Homo sapiens: one gene and its partners. The protein of the gene in region 6 purifies or fractionates together with the protein of the main gene of each other region. This does not show direct contact. Each region holds a gene or a part of one and is shown on either strand. Other genes may lie near its edges.

Region 1 (4,856 bases), about 28 Mb from region 6:
GACAAGAATCATTAGGAGGAGGGGTTTGCAAAATGTTTTAATACATAGAGTTGAGTGCATGGGTGTTCATTATATTATTATTTGTCCTTTCTGTGTTTAAAGTTGCTACAATTAAACTTTTAAACTTGTAGAAGAAAGAATAGTTTCTGATGTTATGTTGGGAAGAATCTTGTAAGCAAGAAAGCAAAAAGCACAAAATTAAAATGTAAAATATTATTAAATTCAAAAAGCTGTATACTGAAGCATAAAGCTTTTGGCAATCAAGAAACATCATAAAAACTGGAAAGACAGTCCATAAACTAAGAGAAGACATTTGCAACACATGTAACTTACAAGAGAGAATTAAACTAGAAAAAATAAATATTATCTACAAAATAATTTTCAAAAGCAAGCAATTTAATAAAAAATGAGATAAAATTAAGAACAGGCTTTAGCAAAAGGGAAAATGCAAATTAAAAGAGCAATCAGATGCTCTTATCAGCAAAAACTTAAAAAGTCTAACAATAGCATAAGGGTAACGATGTGCCAGTCTAGTTTATGGGAAATGGACTTGTATACAGACGAATCTCAAAACCTCTCAAAACCTAAATTAGTGAAAAAAGGGGAAAAATGAAGAATGATTCACATATGAAATATAAAACTAGGAAAATAGTATTTTTAGGGAATCGTACATATGTAACTATTTTCAGAAATACAACGGAATGAGTAATATAAAATTCAGCATAATGGTGAACGGAAGGAAGGAGATGTTTTTAGAGAGTCTTCTTTCTAGAAGACTCCAAAAATACTGGCATTTTTTTTTTCTTAAGCTCTGTAGTGGGTACCTGGGCATTTTTCATTCTTCTTTAAGATATGCACATGAGATATACTCATATGTATATTTCCCAATTAAAATTGGTGTACAAAATCTTTTTAAGGAGAGCCCTTATGAAACTGTTCACATCAGCAAGTTCTAGCTTGAATAAGGACTTCCTGTTACTATGTAACCAAACAAAAGATAGCATTTTCTTGTTTTCTGAAGCTAATGTAAGATGGAAACCTTCAGTTGTAATCCTATTTCAAAAGTTCTTGCTCTTCACATCTGACTTATCCTCAATTATTTCTAGTACTTCAGTACAGATGTGATTTTATAGAATACATTCGCAAATTAAAAACGCCATCTCCATCTGCCTACCTTGGGCTTCCAAGTAAAGTTCTATTTTTACAAAAATCAAAACAGTTCCTCAACTTTAAAAGTTTGAAAACCAGTGTACTTGTAAAGCACTTGATGCAAGCAACTTCTGAATGTTTCACATAAAAACAAACAAAAATGTGTCCTCTGTAATACAGTTAGAGCCTCCCAACAGAGCCTCAGAAGACCGTTTCTAAAGGCAGTGAGTTCTACTTGCAGAAATAGGGCGGGAGTGCAGTCTGACTCCAATCCACACGTCCTTCCCCTCTGACAGAACGCCCCAAAACGCAGTCCTCTCTTTCTTCCGCGCCGCTCCCGCCCTAGTCCTCTTAGACCCGCGACCGGAGGCTCCGGAAGACCCCGAGCCCCGCCCGCTCCGTGACCCCGCCCCCACCCGTCCCGCCCCTGAAAGCGCCCGGAACGCTGTGCGCGCGCCTTCGGGGAGGAGGGGCTGTCTGGGCTCGGGGCGCGGCGGCAGTCAGCTCTATGTTCGCGGTCTTAACCTCTCCTCTGGCCGAGTCCTTGCAAGAAGTGAATTACCCGACCCTGGTGAGTAGCTGCAGGAGTCAGACCTCTTGGAGGCGGCGGCGCCAGCAGCGGCGGCAGGCACGAGGTCCACCGCGGGCGCCTGCGCGCTCGCCCGCCAGCCAATCTGGTGGCCGCTTTCCTCCGGGCGCCCTTTGACCCGGCGCCCCTCTGGCAGGCGCTGGTGGCGCCCAGCGGCGAGCCTGTAGCCCCCTCGATTAACCTAGGCTGTCACTCTTAGGCCTGTTTTAGTCTGCGTTAGTTTTACTGCCTTTTACACTGCTTTATCCCCACCTCACTGGCCTCGTCGCCGCCTCCTCTTTGAAACGGTACCTCCTGTCGCCTCGGATTTTCCTTGTCTCCCCGACAAGGTGGAAATTTCGGGTCGGATGGAAGCCTTTTTCAGCACCTTCTCCTTGTGCCCCCAGACTGCCTCTGGGCCTTGAGCCGACCGGGAGAGTAGAAGGATCGAGGCCTGCTGGGCTCTGGGTGCAACGGAAAGGTAGCTGTCGCCTCTGGGCATCGGGAGGAGACCGCCCGATGGCGAGGCCGCTAGAGATGGTTTTTCAGTTCACCTGTTAACGTGTTTGGCACTGTCATCTTAGACTCTTAGCCTTTGCTAAGTCGGGATGCAACAGTGCTGGATTAGTGTTTTTGTTGTTCCTTTTTCCAAAGAAGCAACTTGAAGTACAGGCAGGTATAACTGTTTGGTTTTGTTGTTGTAAGACCCTACGGATAAGTGTTAGGAGAAAATGTGGAAGTGCTATAAAACAACAACAAGGGGGGGATAATGTTGATTAAGAACTTGAAAATAAGAAAAATGGGACTGGAATAGGCTGTTCACGTTAAAGTATTGAGGCAGTAGTTTGAAACAAAAATATAAAGTAAAACCTAGATATTGGTGATACTGTATCACGTTGTTTGCAAATCACTTTCATGACAATACATCTATTTCAGGTGTATCACACCTGAAAAAAACATGAGTGCTGTGAATTTGTGGATTTTCAGGCTCAATGCAGAAAAACACCCCCCAAAACAAAAAATCACAACAATGAAAACACCATTTCCAGAGCTGTTGCTGTTATTCGTGTGACGAATAGTGAATGTATGATCATAAAATAGAATAAGCTGTCTTTAGATGAAGTTTGGGCACAGTTTATGGAGTAGGTAACAGTTAATCATTGTTTATTAGGTACATAATCCTTAATTGAAAACATAACCATATAGCAGCAGCTTTCATCTTGTGTCACAAAAATAACTGGTGTATCCTCTAAATTTGATTTGTCTAATACCTTAAAGGAAGGCAGAATAGCATGGACAAGAACTTGAGTTCTTGAGCCAGACTCGATCTGCTCCTTGCTAGGTGATTAACCTTAGATTGGTTTCTTGGCCATTTGCTGGCCCAGAGATTTTTGAAAAAGTTACCAACTGCTCAGCTTCATCATTTGTAAAATGAGGTTAAAAAAAATTCTGCGGCCTGGCGCGGTGCCTCACGCCTGTAATCCCAGCACTTTGGGAGGCCGAAGTGGGTGGATCATGAGGTCAAGAGATCGAGACCATCCTGGCCAACCAACATGGTGAAACCCTGTCTCTACTAAAAATACAAAAATTAGCTGGGCGTCGTAGCGTGCGCCTGTAGTCCCAGCTACTCTGGAGGCTGAGGCAGGAGAATCGCTTGAACCCGGGAGGTGGAGGTTGTAGTGAGCCAAGATGGCGCCACTGCACTTCAGCATGGCAACAGAGTGAGACTCCATCTCAAAAACAAAACAAAACAAAACAAAAAACAGAAACTAAACCTCACTGAATTTCTGTTAACCAGAGGGTACAAGTGTTTACAATAAAACTGACCTGGGCAAGGATTGATTTTGAAACTGATTTTGAAAGTTCCAGATGTGTCTTCTAGTATTGAGTTATATTTATCTCCGGTGGCTTCATACAAAATAAAATTAGAAGAAAACAATATATTTTTTAAAAAAAGCACCAGAAGTCTGTGTGATTTAATTTAGTTAATTGAAAGGGAAGTCTTTTTGGCTTTTGTGAGTTACATGATAAAAGCAAATAATTTTTGAAGTACTAATTCATACCACCCTGCTTCTGAATCTCTTGGGGTCTCTTAGCTAGCTGGATATGTCCAATAATTTTTTATTAGACATCACTAAGCTTCAAGTCAGCATTTCAAAGGATTAAAAGCACAAAACTCAAAAAATAGAAGCTACAGGTTCAAAAGAACCTATTGTGTATGAGTAATGTAAACAGTCTTTTGAGGAGAAAACAGATTTTCAGTAGCCAATACTTTGAGTAGGTCCCTGCCTTGGAAAGATATATCTGCAATAAACTTGTAATATTTTCTCTATGGTGACTTATAATACTTTTCTTTTATTGAAGCTAAATTAGTTCCTCCACCCCTTTCCTGCAAGATCAGACATTTTAGGCATCTCAAGGGTCATTGTGGTTTTACAGCGTTGAAGATGATTTTTTTTATTAAATTGGATTTTTAAAATTATTGGATCTTTACGATTCTTTATAATATGTTCAGTATACACCGTAAACTTATCAAGTGTGTATACGGTCAGTAGTCTATATATACACACACACACAGATATACATATATATATATACACACACACTGCCTGAATACCAATGAAACAGCAAAGAGCCAGAAATTAACTTTTTTAAAGCTGAACACTTAATGAACACTATGTGAAAGATATGTTATGCTCTACTAGAATGTGAAGATAAAGACTCCATTTCTGAAACTTAAGGAGCAATCTAGTAGGTGATATAAAGATAAATGCACAGCATGATATAATACATAAGGAATGACAATTTGGCCGGGCACGGTGGCTCACACCTGTAATCCCAGCACTTTGGGAGGCAGAGGCGGGTGGATCACGAGGTCAGGAGATCGAGACCATCCTGGCTAACACGGTGAAACCCCATCTCTACTAAAAATACAAAAAATTAGCCAGGCGTGGTGGCAGGCACCTGTAGTCCCAGCTACTCGGGAGGCTGAAGCAGGAGAATGGCATGAACCCTGGAGGCGGAGCTTGCAGTGAGCGGAGATAGTGCCACTGCACTCCAGCCTGGGCAACAGAGTGAGACGCCGTCTCAAAAAAAAAAAAAAAAAAGAAATGACAATTTAAAAAGTAAATACTGTTAA
Region 2 (4,270 bases), on a different chromosome or scaffold from region 6:
GTGATATTTATATTAGTAAGTTATTTACAAAAGTTCTGACTTCAGTGTAGTATGGGAAACTAACATCTGTCTTAGATATTTTTTCTGTTTCCTTCAGCTCTGTTTCTAATTTGCATGCGCTCAAAAATGATTAAGCATGCCCAAGTAAGAATAGTGAATGCATGGAAACAATCTGTATGTTTTTCTAACTTGTATTTAGGTACAATATTTTTGTCTAGTTTTACAGTGTACCCAAATGCCCATCTATGAATGGGCATTCATAGATTCCCTCCTCAAATTGTGCAATTTATATGCAGACTCAAGTTGCAGAATATAAACAACTGAAAGATACTCTGAATAGGATTCCAAGCCTTCGAAAACCTGATCCAGCAGAACAGCAAAATGTGACCCAGGTGGCACATTCTCCACAAGGTTACAACACAGCAAGGGAGAAGCCAACCCGAGAGGTGCAGGAGGTAAGGGGCGTGAACTGGTAATCTATGGTTAGGTCACTTTCTCTGTCAAGTTGCCAAGAGGGGACCTGCTTTTAATATTGCCAACTTTTCTGGGAGAGCAGTAGTTCTCAAATTTTAGTATATCAGAATTGCCAGTAGGGCGTGATAAAACACAGATTACTGGGTCCCAGGCCCAGAGTTTCTGATTTAGTTAATTTGGAGTGAGGCCTAAAGATTTGCATTTCTAACTGATTTAGCTGGTCTGAGTAGCAAACTTTGAGAACTGCTGCTAGTATTTTCTTTCTTTTTTTCTCTGAGACAGTGTCATGCTACGTCGTCCAGGCTGGAGTGCAGTGGCACAATCTTAGCTCACTGCAACCTCCGCTTCCCGGGTTCAAGCAATTCTCCCTGCCTCAGCCTCCCGAGTAGCTGGGATTATAGGCGCCCGCCACCACGCCTGGCTAATTTTTGTATTTTCAGTAGAGACAGGGTTTCGCTATGTTGGCCAGGCTGGTCTTGAACTCCTGACCTCAGGTGATCCGCCCGCCTTGGCTTCCCAAAGTGCTGGGATTATAGGCGTGAGCCACCACACCTGGCCGCTGCTAGTATGTCTGAGAAAGGCTTTAATGGCTTTGTCTTTATTCATGTAGGTTTATTTGTCTTCAAGGAGTTGTAGTATCTGAGTTTTTCAAGGTTGGGGATTTTGCGGGGGTTAGGGTGAGAACGTTAAATGATCATGAGGATTTTATGTGACAGTCAACCCACTCAAATATTAAAGTTAATAATATATTTTAACTTGGAGCAGTGCTAGGTCTACACAGAGCATGTCAAAATTTGAATTAAATGACCTGTTTGACACTCCTACGGGTATGAGTGCTAGTCAAATAATACACCTTTTTATATTCTTGTTCTTTATAAAAATTAAGCCTTAAGAATATCTCATAAGTGAGACATCAGAAGTAGTTACCATTACCACTAATTTCTACAAAGGTTGTTTTTTTTTTTTCCAATCATCTGTAATAAAAAAATAGGCAATATGGTTATCTTTCTGACAAAGTGGTTGTTTTAAACTTTTAAGTTCAGGGGTACATGAGCAAGTTTGTTACGTAGGTAAACTGTGTCATGGGAGTTTGTTGTAAAGATTATCTTATCACCCAGCTATTTAGCCTAGTACCCATTAGCTATATTCCTGCTCCTCTCCCTCCACCTTCTGATAGGCCGTACAGTGTGTTGTTCCCCTCTATGTGCTTATGTGTCTCATCATTTAGCTCCCACTTATAAGTGAGAACATGTAGTATTTGACTTTCTGTTCCTGTGTTGGTTTGCTACAGATGATGGCCCCCAGCTCCATCCATGCCCCTGCAAAGGACATGATCTTGTTCTTTTTTTATGACTGCATAGTATTCCATGGTGTTTATGTATCACATTTTTCTTTATCAAAGTCTATAATTGGTGGGCATTTAGGTTGATTCCATGTCTTTGCTATTGTGAATAGTGTTGCAGTGAATGTGTCTTTATAATGGAATGATTTCTATTCCTCTGGGCATATACCCAGTAATGGGATTTTGCTGAGTCAAATGGTATTTATATCTTTAGGTCTTGGAGCAGTCTCCACACTGTCTTTCATGATGGTTGAACTAATCTGCACTCCCACCAACAGTGTATAACCATTCCTTTTTCTTCACAACCTCGCCAGAATCTGTTATTTTTGACTTTTTAATAATAGCTCTTCTGACTGGTGTGAGATAATATCTCATTGTGGTTTTGATTTGCATTTCTCTAATGATCAGTGATGCTGAGTTGTTTTTTTTTTTTTTTTGTATGATTGTTGGCCACATATATGTTTGTGTTAGTCCGTTTTCATGCTGCTCATAAAGACATACCCTAGACTGGTTGATTTAAAAAAGAAAGAAGTTTAATTGGACTTACAATTCCACATGGCTGGGGAAGCCTCACAATCATGGTGGAAGGCCAGGAGGAGCAAGTCCCATCTTCCATGGATGGCAGCAGGCAGAGAGAGAGAGCTTGTGCAGGGTAACTCCTCTTTTTAAAACGATCAGATCTTGTGAAACTTGTTCACTATTGTGAGAGCAGCACGGGAAAGACTTGACCCCATGATTGAGTTACCTCTAACCGGGTTCTTCCCACAACACGTGGGAATTCAAGATGAGATTTTGGTGGGGACACAGCCAAACCATATCAGTGTCTTCTTTTGATGTGTGTGTTCATGTCCTTTGCTCACAAAGTGGTTTTTAACATTAAAGAGAAGACTGAGAAAACTTTCCTCCAAGTTATGGGAATAATTAAGTTGATATGAGTAGACTTCATATATGAGCCTCTTCACTCTGTTCAGGGTATTCCTTCAACAGACAGGTTCAGTATCTTCATGGACTCTTATTCTTTCTCAGGCTCTTATGTTAATAACTAAAGAGAGCATGACCAGATCACTGGCCTGGCAGTTGGTTCTATTTTCTGCCCTTGTCAGACTGCCAGTTTACTGGATTAATCTTCCAGTGACTCAGATCTTCAGTTTTTCCATCTCTGAGGTGGAGATAGGAGTTATCTGCACTAACCTTCCTCACTAGGATATTGTGAAGATAAATGACAAGTGTTTGAAAGTACTTAGAGCTCTTTAGAGAAATATTTTTCTGTAAAGCCAGGGCAGTATTATGTCAAACTTGCCAGATATGTGAGGATGTCGGTGGAATGTGCAACTCCAGTTGTCCTCAAATGTCTGAGAAAGGACTTTTCTCCCCAGTTTATTAATACAGTCCAATTTCTCAGATTTGATAATTATATCTCTGCTAATTTAAGAATAGGATTTCACATTTATTTCAATTTTGGGAGAGCAGTCTAACCAAAGAAGATTTTTTTTTCTGAAGGTTAAAGAGAAAAAAAGAGTGACGTTTGTTTCTGTTGATATACTATATTCTCTTTCTTCCTCACTTTCTAGGTAGTGCAGATCATATAGAGATCGCTGAAACTTATAGGGAGAACTGATTTGAGTCAACTAATTTTAGAGGAGGGTTATTCTGAAAAAGCCATTTCTTCTTTTTCTGCTCAGGGTTTTCAATATTAGCAATAAAAAATGTTTACAAAAGAGTCCTGCTGGTTTACAAATAATTACTACTTTAATACATTAAAAATATTTTATTGTATCTTGTTTAACAGGCACTGTGTTGAACTAACATGGATGTTCATTAGTAATGGCATTCTTTTTTTTTTTTTTTTTTTTTTTTTTTTTTTTTTTGAGACGGAGTCTTGCTCTGTCGCCCAGGCTGGAGTGCAGTGGCGCAATCTCGGCTCACTGCAAGCTCCGCCTCCCGGGTTCACGCCATTCTCCTGCCTCAGCCTCCCGCGTAGCTGGGACTACAGGCGCCCGCCACCACGCCCGGCTAATTTTTTGTGTTTTTTTAGTAGAGACGGGGTTTCACTGTGTTAGCCAGGATGGTCTCGATCTCCTGACCTCGTGATCCACCCGCCTCGACCTCCCAAAGTGCTGGGATTACAGGCGTGAGCCACCGCGCCCGGCCAATGGCATTCTTTTTTAAATTAGTAAACCAAACTAGTAAAAACTAAACCCAACTCCTCAATTTTATTTCATCCTTCTCTTTTCAAATAATTACTGAAAACAAAATTTACATTGAAGAAAATTATGTAAACATTTCATCACTTGAAGTTTGAGGTTTTGTTCCTTTTTATTCTAAGGGAAAATAGGAATTAGAGTACTTCTGAGATATTGGTTACTTGGAGGTTTTATTTTCCAGGTTATTTACTGTATTCTTCACAGATGAAGTTTTGCTTATATTATGTCTATTTTATAAGTGAGATTACAC
Region 3 (4,270 bases), on a different chromosome or scaffold from region 6:
TAAAAGGGACTTTCTGGATTGTCCAAGTTATTGTCTCCCGATAGTAGCTGGATGACTATCTCACCGAGTCCATCTGTCCAGCTTGCCTTCCTGTACTCCGGAGGTTGTAGGGAGTTTTCCCAAAACTCCCTAGTGACTTAGGATTCCACCGATAAGATGCACTTGTGCAAAGCTTTAATTCAGAAGGGAGGGGCAAGCCATGAGGCATCCACTTGCTGGCACGAATACTGGCAGAGGTGGCACAGCTCTGAAGCTGGCATTCATGACAGCAACTGCCTAAATTTGTAGCTTCCTGACCATGCCAGTGTCAGCAGCTACCTTGAAGGCCTGGTTCTGGGGTGGAGTTCTGCAAACTGTCCTGGAAGTACAATCTAGAATCTATTTTGTCATTCCTGCCAGTGATTTTTGAGCTCTTTTATTACTCCTTAAAATATCCCTTTCTGTAATAAGCTTAGTTGGTGAGGAATCTGTTGTCTGCAACTAAGAATCTGGTCGATACCATGGCAGAGCTTTTAAATAATCAGACGCTATCTTTATGACTTTTGCTAACAGAATTCTTCACATTGAGGGTGCTCAACAAAACTTGGTGATGATGACAACAGTGACAGCATAAGAAATGCCATTTCTTCTCAGTTAATGTTGTGGAATTATAGAAGCCAGCTGGAAATGTTCACAAACTGGCAAAAACTTGAGGTCTTTGACGAAAAAGCACAAAGCTCTTTATAGACTACACATGGCAGACATTTAACTGCAGTTTGCTTTGTCCTGGATTTATTCATTGTGATGAAGAAACTAGAGACTCAGTATTTTTACTTGAATTACAGCAACCTAAATAGGATTTTTTTTGGTCTTTTTTTTTTTTCCTTTTTATGGAGAACAAGGTCTCACTATATTGCCCAAGCAGGTCTCAAACTCCCGGGCTCAAGCTATCCTCCCACCTCTGCCTCCCTAAGAGCTGAGATTACAGGTGTGAACTACTGTGCCCAGCTAACTAGGATTTTTTTAAACTCCAAATTTTATAGCAAGTGAATGGTGAATCAAGAAAGTGATTCCAGAGACAAACAATGTAGTAAGCCCCATTTTAACACAGGTGGTGATTCCATGGGTCAGGATTTGCAAGTCACATATTTATCTGACATGTAACCAGCTCTCACATTGTTTTAACCAAAAAGCATAAGCACAAAGACACAAAACATTCATTTTTTAAATTACAGAATTTTTTTTTTTTAATAAATAGTGACAGGGTCTCACTATGTTACCCGGGCTGGTCTCCAACTTGTGGCCTCAAGTGATCCTCCCACCTCAGCCTCCCAAAGTGTTGCAATTACAGGTGTGGGGCTCCACATCTGGCCAAAATATTCTTTCTAAATTCATGATTTGATTTTTACTAAGAGTTGTTTGCTTGCTGACATTGTTGTCTACTACAGGGAAGATAGAAGTAAAATCATGTGCTCTTTGCTCTTAAAGATGTTATAATCCAGTTAAAAATAAAATAAAAACTAGAATGAGAAAAATCATCCATTAAGAAAATCCCGGCTGGGCGCGGTGGCTCACGCCTGTAATCCCAGCACTCTGGGGGACTGAGGAGGGTGGATCACGAGGTCAGGAGATCGAGACCATCCTGGCTAACACGGTGAAACCCCATCTCTACTAAAAATACAAAAAAAATTAGCCGGGCATGGTGGCAGGCGCCTGTGGTCCCAGCTACTCGGGAGGCTGAGGCAGGAGAATGGCGTGAACCCGGGAGGCGGAGCTTGCAGCAGTGAGCTGAGATCGTGCCACTGCACTCCAGCCTGGGCAACAGAGCAAGACTCCGTCTCAAAAAAAAAAAAAAAAAAAAAAAAAAAAAAAAAAGAAAATCCCTACTAGGTCAAAATAGTTTCAATGGAACAGTCACATAGAAGTTAATCACTGGCCAGGCACGGTGGCTCACACCTGTAATCCCAGCACTTTGGGAGGCCAAGGCGGGTGGATCACGAGGTCAGGAGATCGAGACCATCCTGGCTAACACGGTGAAACCCCAACTCTATTAAAAATACAAAAAATTAGCTGGGCGTGGTGGCAGGCACCTGTAGTCCCAGCTACTCGGGAGGCTGAGGCAGGAGAATGGCGGGAACCCAGGAGGCAGAGCTTGCAGTGAGCTGAGATCGCGCCACTGCACTCCAGCCTGGGCGACAGAGCAAGACTGTCTCAAAAAAAAAAAAAAAAAAAAAAAAAAGAAGTGAATCACTGATGGCCAAGTTAACTGTGTGCACAATAAGCATTCAATGGCTCACAGGCAGAGGCAGAGGTTCTCCAGGAGCTCCCTATCACTCCTGCGCCCAGCACGCGCACTGGCACACGGTGGTTCTCCAGGGTGCTGCTGGAGCACCCCAGGCACTCTGTCCTGGCTGCTGAGCACAGCCTCGTCCACCTGCTCCCAGTAGAGGGCATGTCCAGAGGAGATACCCGCATGGGAGATGAGGAGGTAGATCTGGGGAAGTCACTCTGGGCTTGAAGAGGTAGGACACATTACACACAAAAAGCTCTAAAGGCCTCTGTATGAGCTGTCATGCCCCTGCAAATGACACCTTCTGTTTGAGGGATTTCTTTCCACTGGCACTTAGAAAAGAAGGTACTCTACAAAATAAGGTATTTGCATGGTTTGAGCATCTCCTAGGGCGCAAAAGTGGGAGCAGAGCTCGGGAGAGTCCCTCGGTGCTACAGTGTGGTGAACTGCTTACCAGAAGCAGGGTCGTACAACCTCAGCAGGAGTGAAAGCACTGTTGATTTGCCAGAACCACTTGGGCCAACCAGTGCCGTGACAGATCCTGACGGAATGGAAAGGCTGAAATCCTGAAATATGGGCACCTCTGGGCGAGCTGGATAGGCAAAATGCACGTTCTTAAACTCCAAAGCACCCTGGAAGCTTTTCTCATTTAAGATGACCCCCTCTGAAACATAAAATGGAATATTAATTACTTACAGCAAAAAATTAAACTCAAAAGCTGAACTCGGTTCTCCTACTCATCTGGCTATGGATGGGTGACTCCACCACAGCTAATCCTGGTATATGAGCTCTTAAAGGGCAAGTCAGAAGCAAACCTAGGCTAAATGCTTACCACGTGCCAACTCTGCACCTACTATGTCCAAGGTACTATATACGTAGACGGTCTTACTTGATCCTTACAACCCTGAGAGGTAGAAATTATAATTCCAATTTTGCTGATGAGGACATTGAAGACCACAGACAACAACCTGCTTAAGCTAACAAGTAGTGGAGTTAAGATCCACCCTTGTTAGTCTGGTTTCAAATCCGATGGCCTTCTCTCTATGCCACTGCCTCTGTGTAGCTCCAGAGTTTATCTTACCTACCCGGAATAAATATTTTGGAAGAGTTATGATGAAACGGGGAGCGCTGCACAGCAGCCGCAGAACTGGAGGGGTCAGAGGTCTGTTCTGCCCTGGTGTTCACCTACTGTGCTTTGGGAGACACTACTGAAACTCTCTCAGCTGGACCTATTTCCTAGGCCTATCACATTGGAGAATATTGGGCTTTCATTTATGGACCTGGGGCTACCTGACAATGTCCTAGGAAGTCAATAAGCAGCTGGGAGTGGTTACTACTCATAGCCATTTCTCCTGATTCCTGGCTAGTTGGTTTAGGCCCTACAGCTCCAGGGAAGTCACTGATAAGGAAGGAGATGGCTCCAGCCAATGAGTACCAGCCTCCCCTACCCCACACCAAAATGCCAAGAAACTTAGATATTTTCTTATGTCTGATTCCTCCTCCCTTATTCCCACCCTAGCCCTCCACAGAGATGTCAGAATCACTAGGGAAGATCAATTTGGTAAACTAGCTGGGACACAGCCCTGGGCCACACTGACTTCCATCCTGCCCTTTGCGGTAACACCCAGATGGAGGGAGGGGAACAGAGGGCAGCACACTATGTGGCCAGCCCATGCATCCAGGGACACCCTGGCCCACAACAGTGCCCCAGCAGCTGTCCCACCCCCTCTCATAGAAAACCTGACCACCTCCTCACCCGGCCCGCCATGCAGCAGGAGCCACATCCTTACTGTGGCTCATCCCTCACTCCCTTGCAGACAGGGGAAGAGCTGGTCTCATTGTTCAAAGCCACATTTGTTAATCCTAGCAAAGAAACAATTTTCAGACCCACCGTTAAAAGGCAGCTTGGGCTCTCTCTCCAGGAGCTCCCAGAGGCGCCCCCCTGCACCCAGTCCTTTCATCAGCTCCGAGTAGAAAGAGCTCAGACCTGAGGATGAGAAG
Region 4 (4,270 bases), on a different chromosome or scaffold from region 6:
CTGAGATCACGCACTACACTCCAGCCTGGGCAACAGTGTGAGACTCCGTCTCAAAAAAAAAAAAAAAAAGGTGACACGTCTCAGACACACAGCACAACCTGGCTGGTGCTCCTAGAGATGGTGAGGATTTGAAGGTGCTCGTGAACGGGGGAGGTGGGACAGTCAGAACAGACACACCTGCTGAGTGCAGGTGAACACGCCTCCCATGCGTTGGATTCTGACTGGGATTATGCCGGTAGGTTAACCTCCAGGCCCGGAACTCTTCTGTGTTATCAGTAGGGGTCTCAAACTTCTTGTGCCACAGATCTCTTTGGCAGTTTAGTGAAGCCTGTGGACCCCCTTCTCAGAATGTTTTGTAATCTATAAAATAAAATACGGCTGGGCGCAGTGGCTCACGCTTGTAATCCCAGCACTTTGGGAGGCCAAGGCAGGCGGATCACGAGGTCAGGAGTTCAAGACAAGCCTGGCCAACATGGTGAAACCCCATCTCTACTAAAAATACAAAAATAAGCTGGGTGTGGTAGCGGGCTCCTGTAATCCCAGCTACTCAGGAGGCTGAGGCAGGAGAATCGTTTGAACCCGGGAGGCAGAGGTTGCAGTGAGCTGAAATCGCACCACTGCACTCCAGCCTGGGCAACAGGGCGAGATTCTGCCTCAAAAATAAAAAATAAATAAATAAATAAATAAAATAGGACTACAAAGGAACCAATAATACTGAAATACAGTTATCAAAATATTCAGAAAAAATTTTGACAGACTAATGTGTTTATTTATTTATTTATTTATTTTTGTCTTTTGAACCAGTGTCTTGCTCTGTTACCCAGGCTGGAGTGCAGTGGTGTGATCTCTGCTCACTGCAGCCTCCACATCTTGGGCTCAAGGGATCTTCTCACCTCAGCCTCCCAAACAGCTGGAACTACAGGTGCACATCACCACACTGGCTCATTTTTTACTTTTTGAGAGATGGGTATTCGCCATGTTGCCCAGGCTGGTCCCGAACTCCTGGCCTCAAGCTATCCACTGGCCTTGGCCTCACAAAGTGCTGGGATTACAGGTGTGCACCATCATGCCCGGCCCTGTTTCTTTTTTCTTTTTTCTTTTTTTTTTGAGGCAGAGTCTTGCTCTGTTGCCCAGACTGGAGTGCAGTGGCACAATCTCAGCTCACCACAACCTCCACCTCCCGGCTTCAAGCGATTCTCCTGCCTCAGCCTCCCGAGTAGCTGGGATTACAAGCACGCACCACCATACCTGGCTAATTTGTTTTGTTTTGTTTTTTGTTTTTGAGACGGAGTCTGGCTCTATTACCCAGGCTAGAGTGCAGTGGCGACATCTCGGCTCACGGCAAGCTCCACCTCCCGGGTTCACGCCATTCTCCTGCCTCAGCCTCCCAAGTAGCTGGGACTACAGGCGACTGCCACTGTGCCCAGCTAAATTTTTTGTATTTTTAGTAGAGACGAGGTTTCACCATGTTGGCCAGGCTGGTCTCGAACTCCTGACCTCAGGTGATCCACCCGCCTCGCCCTCCCAAAGTGCTGGGATTACAGGTGTGAGCCACTGTGCCCGGCCTGTTTCTTTCTTTACACAGTGACAAGACCTCTAATGGCAGGTCCAAGTAGTAATGAGCATAAATTATATTTCGAGATATCTGTAACAACTGATGTGATATAAAAATATCTGATTAGCTGGGTGTGGTGGCACGCACATGTGGTCCCAGCTACTTGGGAGGCTGAGGCAAGAGGATCGCTTGAACCCAGGAGTTTGAGGTTTGCAGTGAGCTATGATTGTGCTACTGCACTGCAGCCTGGGTGACAGAGTGAAACCCTGTCTTTAAATAAATAAATAAATAAAGTGACTCTACTGGGTACAAACAGGTCCTGCCAATACTAGATGTTTGCTTCCTATATTCATAAAAGAAAATGCAAAATTTCAATTTGAGTGAAAAATCTGCAGACCCTCTGAATTCTGCCGAGAATGTCAGGTGAAGAATCCCTGTGCTAAACGAAGAGCTGCAGTAAGTGCTGTGGCAGACACCCACCTCCAGAAAGTTCATGATGAGGAAGAACAACATGAGGAAGGCCGGTGCAAAGACGAGGCGGTCCAGGAGAAGCCTCCTGAGCCCTGCCAGGGGGACCTCAGGAGGGATCCAATGTTCCATGAAGAAGTAGAAGAAGTGACTCAGCGGCCCTGTGAAGAAGAACCTGAGGCCCCCAGGGGGTGTGAGCCAGATTGTGGTTCTCTGGATGTGCTCTTCTCTGGTCTAGCTTCACCCCCAAATCCCAGGTCCTAACCCCTGCTTCCTGATGTCCCTCAGTATTGGCCACACAGGTCTGTACAGATAAGTCGGCTTCAGGGGCGCTCTGTCTCTGTTGCTCTAACAGACCAGACTTGCTCCTGCCGTTGACTCTCTGCTCCCAGCGCGTCCCCGCCTAGCTATGTTGGCTCGCTCCTCCTCACACTGTCAGCTTCCAGGTCGTCCCAGCACGTGTGCACGCCTGTGCTAACACTCTTGGCCCTGGTTCATTTTCTGCCTAGCACTGTCCTTATCTCATATGTTAGGTTAGTCTGTGCCTCTCGTCCCCCCTAGAAGGCAGGCTCCACAAGGGAGGCTACGTCTTCTGTCCACTGCAGTGCCCAGAACAGGGCCAGGCTTCGAGAAGCACTCAATAATGAATCATCAGACATGTCCCTGGTTGTGGAGCTTTTCATTAAACTCACTAGGCTAACTGGCAAGGGAACTCACTAGGTTAACTGGCAAGGGCACTCACTAGGCTAACAAACTGGCAAGGGAACTCACTAGGCTAACTAACTGGCAAGGGCACTCACTAGGCTAACTGGCAAGGGCACTCACTAACTGGCAAGGGCACTAACTGGCTAAGGGAGCTCACTAACTAACTGTCAAGGGCGCTCACTAACTAACTGTCAAGGGCGCTCACTAACTAACTGGCTAAGGGAGCTCATTAACTAACTGGCAAGGGAGCTCTCTAACTAACTGGCTAAGGGAGCTCACTAACTAACTGGCAAGGGCACTCACTAACTAACTGGCTAAGGGAGCTCACTAACTAACTGGCTAAGGGAGCTCACTAACTAACTGGCTAAGGGAGCTCACTAACTAACTGGCAAGGGAGCTCACTAACTAACTGGCTAAGGGAGCTCACTAACTGACTGGCAAGGGCGCTCACTAACTGACTGGCAAGGGCGCTCACTAACTAACTGGCTAAGGGAGCTCACTAACTGGCTAAGGGAGCTAACTAACTGGCTAAGGGCGCTCACTAACTAACTGGCAAGGGCGCTCACTAACTAACTGGCAAGGGCACTCACTAACTGACTAAGGGAGCTCACTAACTAACTGGCAAGGGAGCTCACTAACTGGCAAGGGAGCTCACTAACTGGCTAAGGGAGCTCACTAACTAACTGGCTAAGGGAGCTCACTAACTAACTGGCAAGGGAGCTCTCTAACTAGCTAAGGGAGCTCACTAACTGGCTAAGGGAGCTCACTAACTAACTGGCAAGGGCGCTCACTAACTAACTGGCAAGGGCGCTCACTATCTAACTGGCTAAGGGCGCTCACTTAACTAACTGGCAAGGGCGCTCACTAACTAACTGGCTAAGGGAGCTCACTAACTGGCTAAGGGAGCTCACTAACTAACTGGCTAAGGGAGCTCACTAACTGGCAAGGGCGCTCACTAACTAACTGGCAAGGGCGCTCACTAACTGGCAAGGGCGCTCACTAACTGGCAAGGGCGCTCACTAACTAACTGACTAAGGGAGCTCACTAACTAACTGGCAAGGGAGCTCACTAACTAACTGGCAAGGGAGCTCACTAACTGGCTAAGGGAGCTCACTAACTAACTGGCTAAGGGAGCTCACTAACTAACTGGCAAGGGAGCTCTCTAACTAGCTAAGGGAGCTCACTAACTGGCTAAGGGAGCTCACTAACTAACTGGCAAGGGCGCTCACTAACTAACTGGCAAGGGCGCTCACTAACTGGCTAAGGGCGCTCACTATCTAACTGGCTAAGGGCGCTCACTTAACTAACTGGCAAGGGCGCTCACTAACTAACTGGCTAAGGGAGCTCACTAACTAACTGGCAAGGGAGCTCACTAACTGGCTAAGGGAGCTCACTAACTAACTGGCAAGGGCGCTCACTAACTAACTGGCAAGGGCGCTCACTAACTGGCTAAGGGCGCTCACTATCTAACTGGCTAAGGGAGCTCACTAACTAACTGGCAAGGGAGCTCACTAACTAACTGGCAAGGGAGCTCACTAACTA
Region 5 (4,994 bases), on a different chromosome or scaffold from region 6:
CAATGACGTTTGGCTTATTCTATGACCTGAAAATTATATGAAATGCAAATTTGTGTCCATAAGTAAAACTTTATTGAAACACAATCATGCCATTTGTTGACAAAAAGAGTGAAACTCTGTAAAATATGGGCCGGGCGCGGTGGCTCACGCCTGTAATCCCAGCACTTTGGGAGGCCGAGGCGGGCGGATCATGAGGTCAGGAGATCGAGACCATCCTGGCTAACACGGTGAAACCCTGTCTCTACTAAAAATATAAAAAATTAGCCGGGTTTGGTGGCGGGAACCTGTAGTCCCAGCTACTCGCCAGGCTGAGGCGGGAAAATGGCGTGAACCCGGGAGGTGGAGCTTGCAGTGAGCCAAGATCGCGCCACTGCACTCTAGCCTGGGCCACAGAGCGAGACTCTCTCAAAAAAAAAAAAGAAACTCCGTAAAATATTTAAAGAGGTTAATTCTGAGCCAAACGTGAGTGACCACGGCCCTAGGCACAGCCTTTTTTTTTTTTTTTTTTTTTTTTTTTTGAGACAGTCTCGCTCTGTGGCCCAGACTGGAGCTATCTCGGTTCACTGCAACCTCCACCTCTCGGGTTCAAGAGATTACCCTGCCTCAGCCTCCCGAGTGGCTGGGATTACAGGCGCCCACCACCACGCCCCTGGCTAATTTCTGTATTTTTAATAGAGATGGGGTTTTACCATGTTGGCCAGGCTGGTTTTGAATTCCTGACCTCAGGTGATCCAGCTGCCTCCGCCTCCCAAACTGTTTGGGATTACAGGCGTGAGCCACTGCGCCTGGCCAATCCCCACCTTCTTGACTGACCATTTAAAAAATGTAAGAAACACCTTTAGCTCATCATGAGCAGCACAAAACAGGCAGGGACAGGATTTGGCCCTGAGGCAGGAGAATAGGTCTGGAGGCAGGGAACATAAGGCCAAATCAAATGGAAACAATTCAGCTATGACAGGAAATATCTTCTCCATTTAAAGAGGGCATACATCCAGTAAATGACTTTGTAACTTTACTTCATCCTCTTCATTTACATAGGACGTACATTAAGTAACCAGTGAAAACCTCTAGAGGGCATTTAAACCCCAGAAAATTCTTAAACAGGTCTCTTGAGTCCGTATGCTCCACTGGCTCCCACCCTGCGGAGTGTACTTTCGTTTTCAATAAATCTCTGCTTTTGTTAAGCTTCATTCTTTCCTTGCTTTGTTTGTGCACTTTGTCCAATTCTTTGTTCAAGATGCCAAGAACCTGCACACCTTCAACAGTTAACAGCCCACAGGCAGTAGTTTGCGACTCTAGTAGAGAATGCATAGGGATTTCCATTGAAAATCATTTTTTAAGCCAGTTACGGTGGTTCACGCCTATCATCATCCCAGCACCTTGGGAGGCCAAGGCGGGTGGATCTCTTGAGGTCAGGAGTTCGAGACCAGCCTGGCTAACATGGCAAAACCCCTGTCTAGACCAAAAATACAAAATTAGTTGGGCGTGGTGGCCCGTGCCTGTAATCCCAGCTGTTTGGGAGGCTGCGACACGAGAATCGCTTGAACCCGGGAGGGAGAGGTTGCGGTGAGCCGAGATCGCGCCACCGCACTCCAGCCTGGGTGACAGAGCGAGACTCCATTTCAAAAAAAGAAAAAAAATAATTGTTCCCTACGGGAACGGTATAATTAGGATATAATTGTTTCTGGCCACAGATCACATCCCTTCTGGTTAAGTCCAGGAGAATCTGGAAATACGTAGGGCAACCAGGCCAGAAGGCGTTGTAACTGCCTAAGATTGACCAACCCTAACGCGGGAGGCGGGACGACGGTCACTGATTTGCCAGCGTGACGCCGGTCTGCGACTGGCCAGTGCCGTCCTGGGCGTGTCGGTAGGACGGGGCTGCGACGGTTTCCCATAGGCTGGCACAGAAAGGGGCGGGGAAACAAGAGTGCAACGTTACCAATCGGCATGCGGGACGTAACGCAATTCTTTTTTCCGATTGGTCCGTGAAGCTCGGGAGGTCGTTGGGGGCTCGACCTTGGGATAGAACGCCTGCCTTTTATTGGTCAATACTCTTCGGGCCGGGCAATGTGGCTCCCCGAGGCTGCCTGCGATTGGTGAACGCGTCGCGGCTCGGGGCGGACCTGCGGACTGAAGATCCTTATGCGATTGGCCGGGGAGCCGGAGGGGCGGGCAATTTGGGATCGACAGTGACTCGCGACTGGTCGGCGCGGCGAAAGCAGAGCGGCGCGCCGGTTCCTTGGTTCCTGAGGGCGATGGCGCGGGGTGGCTGGCGCCGGCTACGCCGCCTGTTATCCGCGGGGCAGCTTCTATTCCAGGGCCGCGCGCTGCTCGTCACTAACACGCTGGGCTGCGGCGCGCTCATGGCGGCCGGTGATGGCGTGCGCCAGTCCTGGGAGATCCGCGCCCGGCCCGGCCAGGTTTTCGACCCACGGCGCTCCGGTGAGGACGCCACGCTGCTTAGTCCTTCACCCCGGGCGACCTTTGATCCCGACACCCGACTGCGGGCCGTGACCCCTGACCCGTGGCCTCAGTCCCCCGCAGGACCCTTGCCCTGACCGCGCCTCTCCCCGGGTGTCTGTCTCCCCGCAGCTCTGGGTCTCCATCACCTCCCAACCCCCGGAGGTCTCTGCCCACTACCCAGGAGCCTCTGGAGCCGCGCCTCCTGGTGGGGCTTGTAGTGGAAGAATGCACGGGTGGGCTCTTCCGGTTTTCCCGGTGAGGCTGAGGCTCCGGGATGGCATTGGGCTTACCCAGGCCTTAGCCAGGGAGGGAGAGAGGGAATGGACTGAGGAACTTGCCGGCCCGACCCAGCCCCCTGACTTACACTCTTATAGCGAGCATGTTTGCGGTGGGCTGCAGCATGGGTCCCTTCCTGCACTACTGGTACTTGTCGCTGGACCGCCTATTCCCTGCGTCTGGCCTCCGAGGCTTCCCAAATGTCCTCAAGAAGGTCCTCGTGGATCAGCTGGTAGCCTCTCCATTGCTGGGCGTCTGGTACTTCTTGGGTAAGGAGCCTCCTAAGCCTAGGCTTTGCCTCTCATAGGTCGGGAGGGGTGGAGCCAGCTTTGTGTTAAGAAGGATGCAGAGGTGCATTTCCAATTTGCCCCCTGTTTGGGTCGCCCTGGACTAGGAGCCAGGTCACAGCGGGGACAGGACGGACTCGGCCGATGTGAACGCTGGCGAGTGTAGGAGGGACGAGGACTGTATCTGTTGGGGCTGCCCTGGGCGGGAGGTTGAGAGCATTTCCCAAAGAAGGGGACCACACTCAGTTGAGACATGAAGAGGGAACCAGCGGGCAGAGGGAACAGCTAATGCAAAGGCTCTGAGGCCTGAAGGAAGAGAAATTGAGGCTAGACTTAATGGGGTGCAACCGTGCCAGCCCTAGGCTCGGTAAAGACAGCGGTATTAATAGAGGAGTCTCTCATTCTCCACCTCCCAGCCCGGCTTCCTGGTCTGTGATGGAAAAGTAACACAACTCCCTCAACTTCAGGGTGTCTCCATTGGGGCACGTGTTTATATGTTTATAACCTCTCTTTCTCTCACTGGGACTGACTTGCTCTGTTTTGTCTCTACACCAGCTACCCTAATTCTCTGTCCATCCCATCTGAAAGTCCCTGTCCCTCTGCCCGGGGTGGGCGGCGTGGGCTCTCAGGGGCCCAACCCCGCCCCCTCCATCGTCAGCCCATCTTGTCGTCTCAACAGTACTTCCTGGCCTCTAACACTCTCATTTCTTGGTTTGCTTCCCAGGCCTTGGCTGCCTGGAGGGTCAGACAGTGGGTGAGAGCTGCCAGGAGCTGCGGGAGAAGTTCTGGGAATTCTACAAGGTGGGAGCACCCGCCCCTTGCACATGTCCGGCCCCGCCCCCTGATGGCCGCTCCGCCCCCGCCCAGCTCTGGCCCCGCCCCTCATCCCCCGCCTCTCCCCGCAGGCAGACTGGTGCGTGTGGCCTGCTGCGCAGTTCGTGAACTTCCTCTTCGTGCCCCCCCAATTTCGAGTCACCTACATCAACGGCCTGACGCTGGGCTGGGACACGTACCTGTCCTACTTGAAGTACCGGGTGAGTGTGGAGGGCATACCAGGCACCCAGGGGACTCCCCAGGGGGCTACACGTGTGAGCTCCAAGTGGCAGTGTAGCCAGCCACCCTGGAGGGTGGGAGTCTCCTGTGCTCCTGACAACCCACACCCAACAGTGGGCTGGCGGAGAGCTCCTCACTAGCAGTTAAGACCCAGCCGTGGCTGAGCGCCGTGGCTCATGCCTGTAATCCCAGCACTTTGGGAGGCCGAAGCGGGTGGATCGCCTGAAATTGGAGTTAGAGAGCAGACTGGGCAATATGGTGAAACCCCTTCTCTACTAAAAATACAAAAAATTACTGGTACGCACCTGTAATTCCAGTTACTTGAGAGGCTGAGGCAGGAGAATTGCTTGAACCCAGGAGGCAGAGGCTGCAGTGAGCCAAGATCATGCCACTGCACTCCAGCCTAGGTGACAGAGCGAGACTCCGTTTCAAAAAAAAAAGACCCATGCCGGGCGCGGTGGCTCACGCCTGTAATCCCAGCACTTTGGGAGGCCGAGGCAGGCGGATCACGAGGTCAGGAGATCGAGACCGTCCTGGCTAACATGGTGAAACCCTGTCTCTACTAAAAATACAAAAAAAAAATTAGCCGGGCGTGGTGGCGGGCGCCTGTAGTCTCAGCTACTCCGGAAGCTGAGACCGGAGAATGGCCTGAACCCGGGCAGCGAAGCTTGCAGTGAGCCGAGATCGCGCCACTGCACTCCAGCCTGGGCGACAGTTCGAGACTCCGTCTCAAACAAACAAAAAGACCCAACCCTTCTCTGCTGTCTGATGTGACCTCAGCCCGGTCCCTGCCAAGTCTGTTGAGCAGGGCTGACCTCTGGCCCAAGGGCAGGTAGAGGGACAGGGAGGGATGAGCCAGGCTTCTGACCAGATGCCTTGTCTTGTGTGGACAGAGCCCAGTTCCTCTGACAC
Region 6 (4,270 bases):
AACAAAAAATTTTTAAGAAACCTGTAATGAGGATGGGGCACATGTGGTCCAGTACTCTATAACAGATTCACATTAGCTATACTTTCTCTGCCTGCCACAAATATCAAATAGTTGTTTTAAAAGAAAGAATGAGTGAAGGAGCAAAGTGTGTGGCAGCTGGAAAATTCGTTTCTCCTTCCCCACAGACCTCCTAGAGGTCATCAGAAAACTAGGGAGCAATGTCTGACTATGCCAACTCTTCCTACTCTACAAACAGATTTAGATGGGTTCATAAAAACTAGATTATTTGATGGGTGTGTGTGTGTGTCTGTGTGTGTGTGTGTGTTTATGGTAGGTGTGTATATACATATGCATCTTATCCCTAATGCTTTAAGCAGAAAAAGAGATGTATTATTTCCATATACAATATTGAGAGTAACTACATTGAATATATTCATATGTATACTATGTAATTAAATAATTACTAATAAATATGTGTCCCATGTGAAAATCTGTTTCCAAGTGAGTAAAGGACCTATGAGCCTTATTTCTTTAAAAAGAAGTATTTAGAAATCTATATGAAAAGAATGCCTCAAACATATTAGGTCTAACTTAACTATGTGAATGAGTATTCTCTTGCCCAAAAAGCTAACTCAACAGTTAGCTTAGTTGAGCTAACTCAACTAAGTCATCATATAAAATTTTCAAAACCAAAGCCTCAGAAATTAAAAAAAACTATATCTTTATCTTGCTTAGCTAAAATCATAATGTAATTAGTTTTCTTTAATTTAAAAATGCTCTTAATTAAATCTTTGCTTAGTAACAAAAAATGAAAAATAAAATGACATATTTATATGTCTGATCTGCCATTAGAGGTTAAGTTTTGAATACTTACCTAATGATACATTTATATAATTGATGGCAATTGTTCTCAATACTGAGACTTGCTTTAGCAATTGCAATTGTTTAGCTGATAAAATCACATTTGTGCTTTTGTTTTAAACTCTAAATGATATTTGAATGTCCTTTTAATAGATAAATAACTCTTTGTGTAGAAATAAAAATAGTAGACTGAAAAGGGATATGGTAATATAATGCTGTCTTTAATAAATCTGATTACTGATAGAAATGAAATACAATATTTGTGGCCTGGAAAATAAACATTATTTTAAAGTGTTCCGGTGATGAGTTTTTATCAATAAAATGTGGCTCCCAAATCCCCAAAGATATGAAAAATTAACATCAAAAAATACATTCACATTCCTAGTTGTTAGATAAGTATTTTGACATTTCCAAATATAACTGGCATCAATTTTTACACTCTGTATTTATGGTTAAAAATTAGAATGTACTTTGTAGGTTTTCACTGATTTCATGTGATTATTTTTCTTTTTGAACAGCAATCTAAAGTGTAAAGGATTTCAGGATCTAAGTAATCATACCAGTGAATCCAAAGATTATTTCTGCTGTTTTTTTACCACAGTAAAATATTATATTCAACGTATTTTCTCTTTACTTACTTCATCCTTTTTGTCTACCAAAATATTTCATTAATGACATAATTTTGATGGAAGTAATAATTAACTTTTAAATTTTTTTCATGGTGATATAATCACCTTGAAAATTGGAAAAAGTTTTAGAGCTCCTAAGTTTTAATATGACTTATATCTTAAAATAATAAATTAAAATTATCTAAATTTAAAGGTTTGTAGATCACTAAAAAAAGAAAAAATCTTTCCTTTTTAAAATATATATTTTTAAAATATGTATCTTTTGTCATATAAATCAGAGTTGACAAATACTACATGTGAATCAAAGTTTACAAATGCAAATTCAAGAGAAAAAAGATGAAAATACAGTACGAGTGCATTGCAAATTTCATTTCTTGTGCCTTATGAGGAAAAATTAATTTCAGTTTCATCCTCCAAATAGCCTGCTCTGTAATAAAATTGTAAGATTTCTTAAACTAAAATCTAATAGAAACCAATTCTTTGATACAGTCCTTAGATAACATTAGTCAAAAGTGCTACAAAGTAAAGAAAAATTTGGTTTTGCAATGTCTCCAAGAAACACCAATTACAGGAATAGTCTCTACATGTTAGATCCCCGTATTCTGTAAAGGAGTCTCAGGATTATACAGCAAACTGGAGTCAGGAATGGACTTAGGAAAAGAAACATTCAATAAGGGCCAGAGATGTGGTACGATAAGACCCTTAGTTGCCCTCCTAAACCTTCAGCTCTGTATATTCACATAGCAACCTTCCATAAAATAAAAATTCAGGTTTATATGCCACCTCCATTGAAGTGATATATTTTTGCAAAGTGGGGATGTAAGTTTGACATCACTCTTGCTGAAGAATGGCGAAATATGTCACATTCAGAGCTTTCTAAAGTTAGAAATTTAGTCAATGGAAACTGAAAAAGAAACTTGAGAACTGTCTTCTCTATAACATCTTGCCTATTAAATAAATTTAATAATTGGATGTATATTCTAAATGATGTGCTCTTGCCAATGCAACAGTAATGTATGGATAGTTTTTATGATATTTACTCTATATGATTCCAACATGTACCCCTTCACAAACTCCTTAGGAATTGCTGTCATTTTGGGGGACCACTTTCCTCCAAAGAGTATGACACATACAATCTTTATTCCACCTCTTAATAGACATTCCATATCTCAAAAATTCAACATTTATCCCCAATCTTTATATGATTTCGGATGCTACCTCCAAACCCCTTTTAAAAATACTTCAAAATGCCCCTTTAGATCTGTGAACACATTTTAGTATTTTTATAAATAAATATTAATTCCCAATTTACTGTATTTCTTTTCTGATATATTTACTTTAATGTCTTTTACCCCCATTTGAAGTCTGATTTTGGTCTTTTTCAACTTTTAATTTCACTGCATGTGCTTCTTGCCCAATATTCTCTTAGAACCTCCGGCAGCCTCCTGCTCTGAATGTTTACCTTTCTGTTCATGCTTTGACACAGCTGCTTTCTCTTTGTCCTCCTTTTCTTTGGGTTTTGATGGTGTTTTCTGTACTTCTTTTACTTTTGCAGCTGTTTGCTTCACTTTCTCCTGTTTTCCACCTTTCACTTCCTTTTTAGTCTTTTCTTCACTCTTTTCTGCAGTCTTAGCTTTCTTCTGTTCTGTATAAAGTTAAAAGATGTTGAAATACTTTTGTTTATTTACAAACATAATGTTTCATCTGTACTATGTCATTAAGGAAAATTGGAAAAGAAAGAGGGAAGAAAGGTAAGTCACAAGTGTTTATGTTAAGAACAGTATTTTTCAGGAAAACAATGAAAAATACTGTTCTTAACATAAACACTTGTGACTTACCAGAGTTTTATACAGTTTATGAAGTGCTATATTAGATAGACTACTAAAAGTGTTATGGCTTTTAATTTGTACATGAAAACACTATTTTTTAAGGCAATAGTAACTTAGCATGTCAACAAGGAGGCATTTGTAGCATGCAGGGGATGGATGTACAGGAATTTCTGTGAAAGACAATTTCCATACCAAACAGCCCAGTGAAGTAGTCTCCTTTTATAAGCACATGATCATTTTGCTTGATAACTGAAAGATCTTAAGGGTCATTCAAGAAACTGAAATGCCAACAAAGTCTTTTTTAAAGACAACAATTAGTAATGCAAGTGTAAAATTATCGCATTGGTGTTGACTAACAGAAATAAAACAATGAAATCCATTAGAAGATAACTGAAAGACCTATAGTCTAATGATTTGGCCTTAGAAAAACTGAAAGTGAAGAAATTCAGATATTGGCTCCTGTTTATCTTAAGTCAGCGATAATTCTACTAGTTTTTAAAGCCCTTAAACATATCATGGGAAATTCAAAGGGCTATAAATAAAAATATATATGAATAGATATATAAATTAGAACATATATATATTACACACATATATTCTTAATTTGATATTATCCGTATTTTGGAAGAGGGAACTGTGATGCAAATAACTAGTCTGTGGATCATTCAAGCATCTTTTAAAAAGCAGTAATAATGTAGCACATAATTTGTGGAAAATTGTTCATAATAGATGCTGAATATTGGACATTCCTTTTTGTATGTGACTACACATAACCACTATACACCACAGCAACTCTACTGCAATGTTGGAATCCTCTATGTCATTTGCTAATGCACTGTGTAGCCTTTATTGTCACTCATGTTAAAGAATTTGATGAAGGCCGGGCATGGCGGCTCATGCCTGTAATCCCAGCACTTTGGGAGACCAAGGCGGGCGGGTCATGAGGTCAGC
Region 7 (4,270 bases), on a different chromosome or scaffold from region 6:
ATTGGATATAAGTTATTCTTTCTTGTTGGGTTGTCTTTATGAATTCATAAAGAATTGAATAGTGCTATTCGCTGAGGTGTATAGAGCTGTTTTTGTTTATAGTAAATGGTCTCAGCCTGCTGGGTTGAAATACTAGAATAGAGACAGAAGTACCATTCTTCTTTTTATGTTTTTTTTTTTTTTCTGGGTCCTCTTTCTGTTATTGGCTATCACTTTCTGCTGCTGTCAGACTGTGAGTGGGCCCTGCTGCTCTATTATCTGTTGTCTTTTTTTCCATCAAATGATGTGGGCTATTGCCCGAGTGTAAATCCTGTAGACTTTGTGACAGACACTTTCAGTTTACGTGCTTTATTTGTGGTTTGGACTGTGAACTGAAATGTTTAGGTTTCCAGAAGGGTGACCTCTATATAAAAGGTTTTAATGTACCTTTTATAGAAAAAATTTGTGTATGAGATCTTTAGGAGGGTGTATTAATTTCAGACAATTCAGTCTTCTGGAATATCTTGGTGTTTCTGAGAAACTGAAGCAGCCTTTAAAAAAAAGTTTACTTTCTTATGATAGGCCCAGATCGTCTTTGTTTAGGAATATGTATACTAGAATATTTTACATATTACTTTCTGCCATTGAAACTTACTAACTATAATGTAGTGTAGTTAATATTTTTCTACCCCGGAAGTCCAGAATAAGAAGTATGATTTGAGAATCCTGCTAACCATACTTGAGGCTACATGAATTATTTAAATATTATTTTGCAAATCTACTTATGGAGGAGGTACATAATCAAATACATATGATTAAAATGGTTTAATTTGATCTTGAAAACAGTGGTAATCATATCTCCTTAATCTGAAGCATTTCACAAACATTCATTCTTTTATTCAACAAATATTTGTTAAAAGCATACTGTGTGCCAAGCACTGTGCTCTGGGGATGTGCATACAATTAAGGCCCTGGGAGGGCTCTAGGTTTAAAAGGGGGAGACAAGGAGGAAACAGGCTATTTTCAATATCTACAGTATAGTGCTGGCTGTTCTGTAAGTGCCGTGATAGAGATACACACACAGTACCCTGAGCAGAAATTTGGAAGTGGTCAATTCTGTGTGGGGACAGGAGATTTGAGGGTTTCTTAGAGGGTGACATAAAAGATGAATCACTGGAGGCAGGAGCAAGATCATGGAGGGCTGTTTGCCATTCTCAGGAGTATGGACTATTTTCAGTTTAAGGTTGTTTTAAACAGAGGAGCTATGTGATGAGAAAACAGCTCTTACAGCAAGCAATCTAGAAGGATGGATCTGAGGAATGTGAGATTTGGATGGTAGTTTAGAAGATATTGGGGTGGCTTTGGTAAGAGAGGTTGAGGTCCTTGTACCAAAGTGTTGGCAGTGGGATGAAAAAAAGGGGTTTGGTTACAACGATATTCAGGTGGTAGAACCTCTAAGATTAGGTGACCAATTTGGTTGGAGGATTGGGAGTGGGTGGTATAGGAGGATGGGATGGGAACTTAAAAGGAGATCCAGATTTGAGAGCAAGAGTGATAGAGTTCAGTTTTAGACATGTAGAACTTGAAGTGCTTATAGAAAATCGAACTGGAGATGTGTGTCCAGTGAATCATTGTATGTGAGTTCTGAGCACAGAGGTCCTGGGCTAGATAGGCAGGTAGATAAATGGTAGGTAGATAAATGGATAGACACACAGAAACATTTAGGAGTTTTCAGTGTATAGGTAATTATAAACCGTGAAAGTTGATAGGTTTTCCAGGGCAAGTACCAAAAGTTAATAGGGAAACAGAGGCCTGGGGAGATCCTAAAATTTAAGAGTTGGGTAGAGAAATAGGAAGCAATAAAGAAAAACGAGAAGGTACAGAACAAGAGAGGCAAGAGGAGAGTTAGGAGGGTGTAACTTTTAAAAGCAGCTGAAAACTGAGAAAATTTCAGAAAGTGAGAAGGTCAGGTACTGAAATGAGGGGGTGTTAGACAGTCTCGGTTCCCACCCCCTCTCGAGCCCCGAATAGCTCTGTGACCTTGAGCTCACAATTTAGTTTCATTTCCTCATTTAGCAAATGAGGGGAGAAGCACCTACTTTATAGGGCTACTGTGAGGATCAGATGAGATAAAATCTATCAAGCACAATGCCTGGGAGGTTACTCCTTTGTGTTTAACAAATGCTACCTGTTTTATGGAAACCAGGACTTGGATTTGTGATTAGAAGGTCCGTAGTCATTTTTGCTTTCACAAGTACTCGCTCTCAGAATTCACAGAGAGTGATTGAAAATATATTTTTAAGATGAAAATTTGATCATACTTTTAACTTTTTTGGTTAGAGGCCAGTAGAATAGCAGCCATTGAAAGTTTTGAAGGGAGCAGAGGGAGCCAACTGAACAAAAGTCCTTGAAGAGAGAGTGGAAGTTGCCTCAAGAGCGTTGCAGAGATGTTGGGTTTCTCAGGACAATCCATGCTTCCGCCAGTCAGGAGGGTCTGGTGGCATATGCATTGTGTTTAAAAAGCACCTGGTAATTAAACCTCCAGGTTTCTAATGTCTTGTTTAAAGTACTCTTAGTATTTTAAGTGTGTTCTAGTTCCTTAGATAATCTATAAGGACATTGATTATACATTTTAGTATTAGCTGAAAATAAACTCAGAAAACAATACAGATGATTTCAAAATTTAACAAAATGTAATTTAATATTTGATGATTCCAAAGGCACCTCTATACCTCATAGGGTCTTAAAAATCAACATGTGAAAAATAATTATTAGCCTGTGTAATAGGGGAAGGACTGATTTGTAGAGGTTTGTTTGCTTTTTTTTTTTTTTTCCCCCAATTAAGACTACTATGGTAATATTTAAATATACCTACTTTTTTCCTAGGATTTTCTGTTTGGATGAAGTGATGCTTTATATTAGAGATTAATAAACATTTTAAATTAGATTTCTATTTTAATATGTGTATAAGTTTTTTACTCTGTAATTACTGCATAATTTGAGAAAATGTTTACATCTATGCAGTGGTTTGGAAGTCAACCAACAATTGCACATAGTACATATTGTTTACTAATTGGTTATAAGGCATATAATAAATATTTGTTGTCCCAATACATGTTTGTTGAATAAAACAAAATTAGATATTCCATATTTTTAAGATGAAATGAATTTTATATCTGTAGTTTTAATATTTAATCATATTCTTTACCTGAAAATCGCTAGCCATACTTTTCGTTTTCAGCACTTCTCTATTTTGCAGTTGTGTTTCAGTGCTTTTTTTTTTCCCACTGTGCTTAGTCCTTCACGATTTATGGCCCTGTTATTTGTAAAGCATAGTAATCTAAGCAGGTGATTTTCAGTTTAGGATTTCTTCTAGTTCCATGTTGTATATTCACCAAGTCAGTTTTAGACTATATATTGTCATGCTCAGCACTCCCTTACAGAGATAACAGATGCCAAGTTGAAATTGACTTATACAGAATGCCACACTTAGGTAAGTGTTTAGGAGTGCATAGCCAAAATAAAAATGGTACCTTTGGTTTATGAATGGCAGGGCATCTAGGACAGTGTAGGTCAGTTCGTATTCTCTGGATGGACATTTATGTAAATATTAAAACATTTAGATTAGATGGAAAGATGTATAGTAGGAACATTTCAGAGATACTGTTTCCTTGTAGCATTGTACTATTTATCTGAATTGTTAATTTGGAATAATCACTATATTGATTTTATTTTGAAGATATAATTTATTTCCATTGACTTGATATAAATAACAGAAATGCATCTGCAAGGAATCCAGTTCATTAAAGAAATTTACATTCGTATCTGATTTGGTAAATATGTGCTTGATTTGGGAATATTATATAACAAAATATTTGTGAAATCATTTTGTACTTTTTAATTGTTTTGAAGAAATTTAATACTCAAAATATTTCAAGACACCAAATCATGACTTTTTAGTTATTACATTAAGCTATAACTTGCTTTAATGAGTAAAAACTGTGGGGCTAATTTTCTTCCAAGTGAAACATCAAGTTTAAATAATGTGCACATGAATTTACAAAGTAGAATCAAGTGTGCAAATATGCTATATGTTCTGTAATAGGTTCTTGAAAAGCTGTATATAAACTCAGCTTTTATAAGTTGAGTCATATTTATAGAATAAGAAAATAGGGCAAACATTTAACACTTCTTAAATATTAAGTGATGGGCATACAGATGTTTGTTATGTTAATCTTTATATTTTTCTGTATGTTAGAAATAGTTTACAGAAAAAAATTGTGGTTAGTGA

What was found.
Region 1: the proteins of TRDN (region 6) and MANEA purify together in Homo sapiens (co-immunoprecipitation; 3 studies listed by BioGRID and IntAct, with this or other methods). This does not show direct contact.
Region 2: the proteins of TRDN (region 6) and GOLIM4 purify together in Homo sapiens (co-immunoprecipitation; 3 studies listed by BioGRID and IntAct, with this or other methods). This does not show direct contact.
Region 3: the proteins of TRDN (region 6) and ABCB10 purify together in Homo sapiens (co-immunoprecipitation; 3 studies listed by BioGRID and IntAct, with this or other methods). This does not show direct contact.
Region 4: the proteins of TRDN (region 6) and PXMP2 purify together in Homo sapiens (co-immunoprecipitation; 3 studies listed by BioGRID and IntAct, with this or other methods). This does not show direct contact.
Region 5: the proteins of TRDN (region 6) and MPV17L2 purify together in Homo sapiens (co-immunoprecipitation; 3 studies listed by BioGRID and IntAct, with this or other methods). This does not show direct contact.
Region 7: the proteins of TRDN (region 6) and UGT8 purify together in Homo sapiens (co-immunoprecipitation; 3 studies listed by BioGRID and IntAct, with this or other methods). This does not show direct contact.

What each region holds. Positions count from the first base shown.
Region 1 is NC_000006.12:95,575,919-95,580,774, forward strand, and holds the start of MANEA (glycoprotein endo-alpha-1,2-mannosidase), read left to right. Parts: upstream 1-1,616; 5' UTR 1,617-1,720; intron 1,721-2,304; exon of another isoform or gene 2,305-2,393; intron 2,394-4,856.
Region 2 is NC_000003.12:168,033,021-168,037,290, reverse strand, and holds part of GOLIM4 (Golgi integral membrane protein 4), read left to right. Parts: intron 1-296; coding exon 297-455; intron 456-4,270. UniProt on the Homo sapiens protein: Plays a role in endosome to Golgi protein trafficking; mediates protein transport along the late endosome-bypass pathway from the early endosome to the Golgi.
Region 3 is NC_000001.11:229,527,476-229,531,745, forward strand, and holds part of ABCB10 (ATP-binding cassette sub-family B member 10, mitochondrial), read right to left. Parts: intron 4,257-4,270; coding exon 4,161-4,256; intron 2,934-4,160; coding exon 2,724-2,933; intron 1-2,723.
Region 4 is NC_000012.12:132,693,812-132,698,081, reverse strand, and holds part of PXMP2 (peroxisomal membrane protein 2), read right to left. Parts: intron 2,199-4,270; coding exon 2,036-2,198; intron 1-2,035. UniProt on the Homo sapiens protein: Seems to be involved in pore-forming activity and may contribute to the unspecific permeability of the peroxisomal membrane.
Region 5 is NC_000019.10:18,191,024-18,196,017, forward strand, and holds the start of MPV17L2 (mpv17-like protein 2 precursor), read left to right. Parts: upstream 1-2,194; 5' UTR 2,195-2,258; coding exon 2,259-2,445; intron 2,446-2,840; coding exon 2,841-3,011; intron 3,012-3,753; coding exon 3,754-3,830; intron 3,831-3,934; coding exon 3,935-4,063; intron 4,064-4,975; coding exon 4,976-4,994. UniProt on the Homo sapiens protein: Required for the assembly and stability of the mitochondrial ribosome. Is a positive regulator of mitochondrial protein synthesis.
Region 6 is NC_000006.12:123,500,767-123,505,036, forward strand, and holds part of TRDN (triadin), read right to left. Parts: intron 3,136-4,270; coding exon 2,953-3,135; coding exon of another isoform or gene 2,885-2,952; exon of another isoform or gene 1,062-2,884; intron 1-1,061. UniProt on the Homo sapiens protein: Contributes to the regulation of lumenal Ca2+ release via the sarcoplasmic reticulum calcium release channels RYR1 and RYR2, a key step in triggering skeletal and heart muscle contraction.
Region 7 is NC_000004.12:114,601,661-114,605,930, forward strand, and holds part of UGT8 (2-hydroxyacylsphingosine 1-beta-galactosyltransferase precursor), read left to right. Parts: intron 1-4,270. UniProt on the Homo sapiens protein: Catalyzes the transfer of galactose to ceramide, a key enzymatic step in the biosynthesis of galactocerebrosides, which are abundant sphingolipids of the myelin membrane of the central nervous system and peripheral nervous system.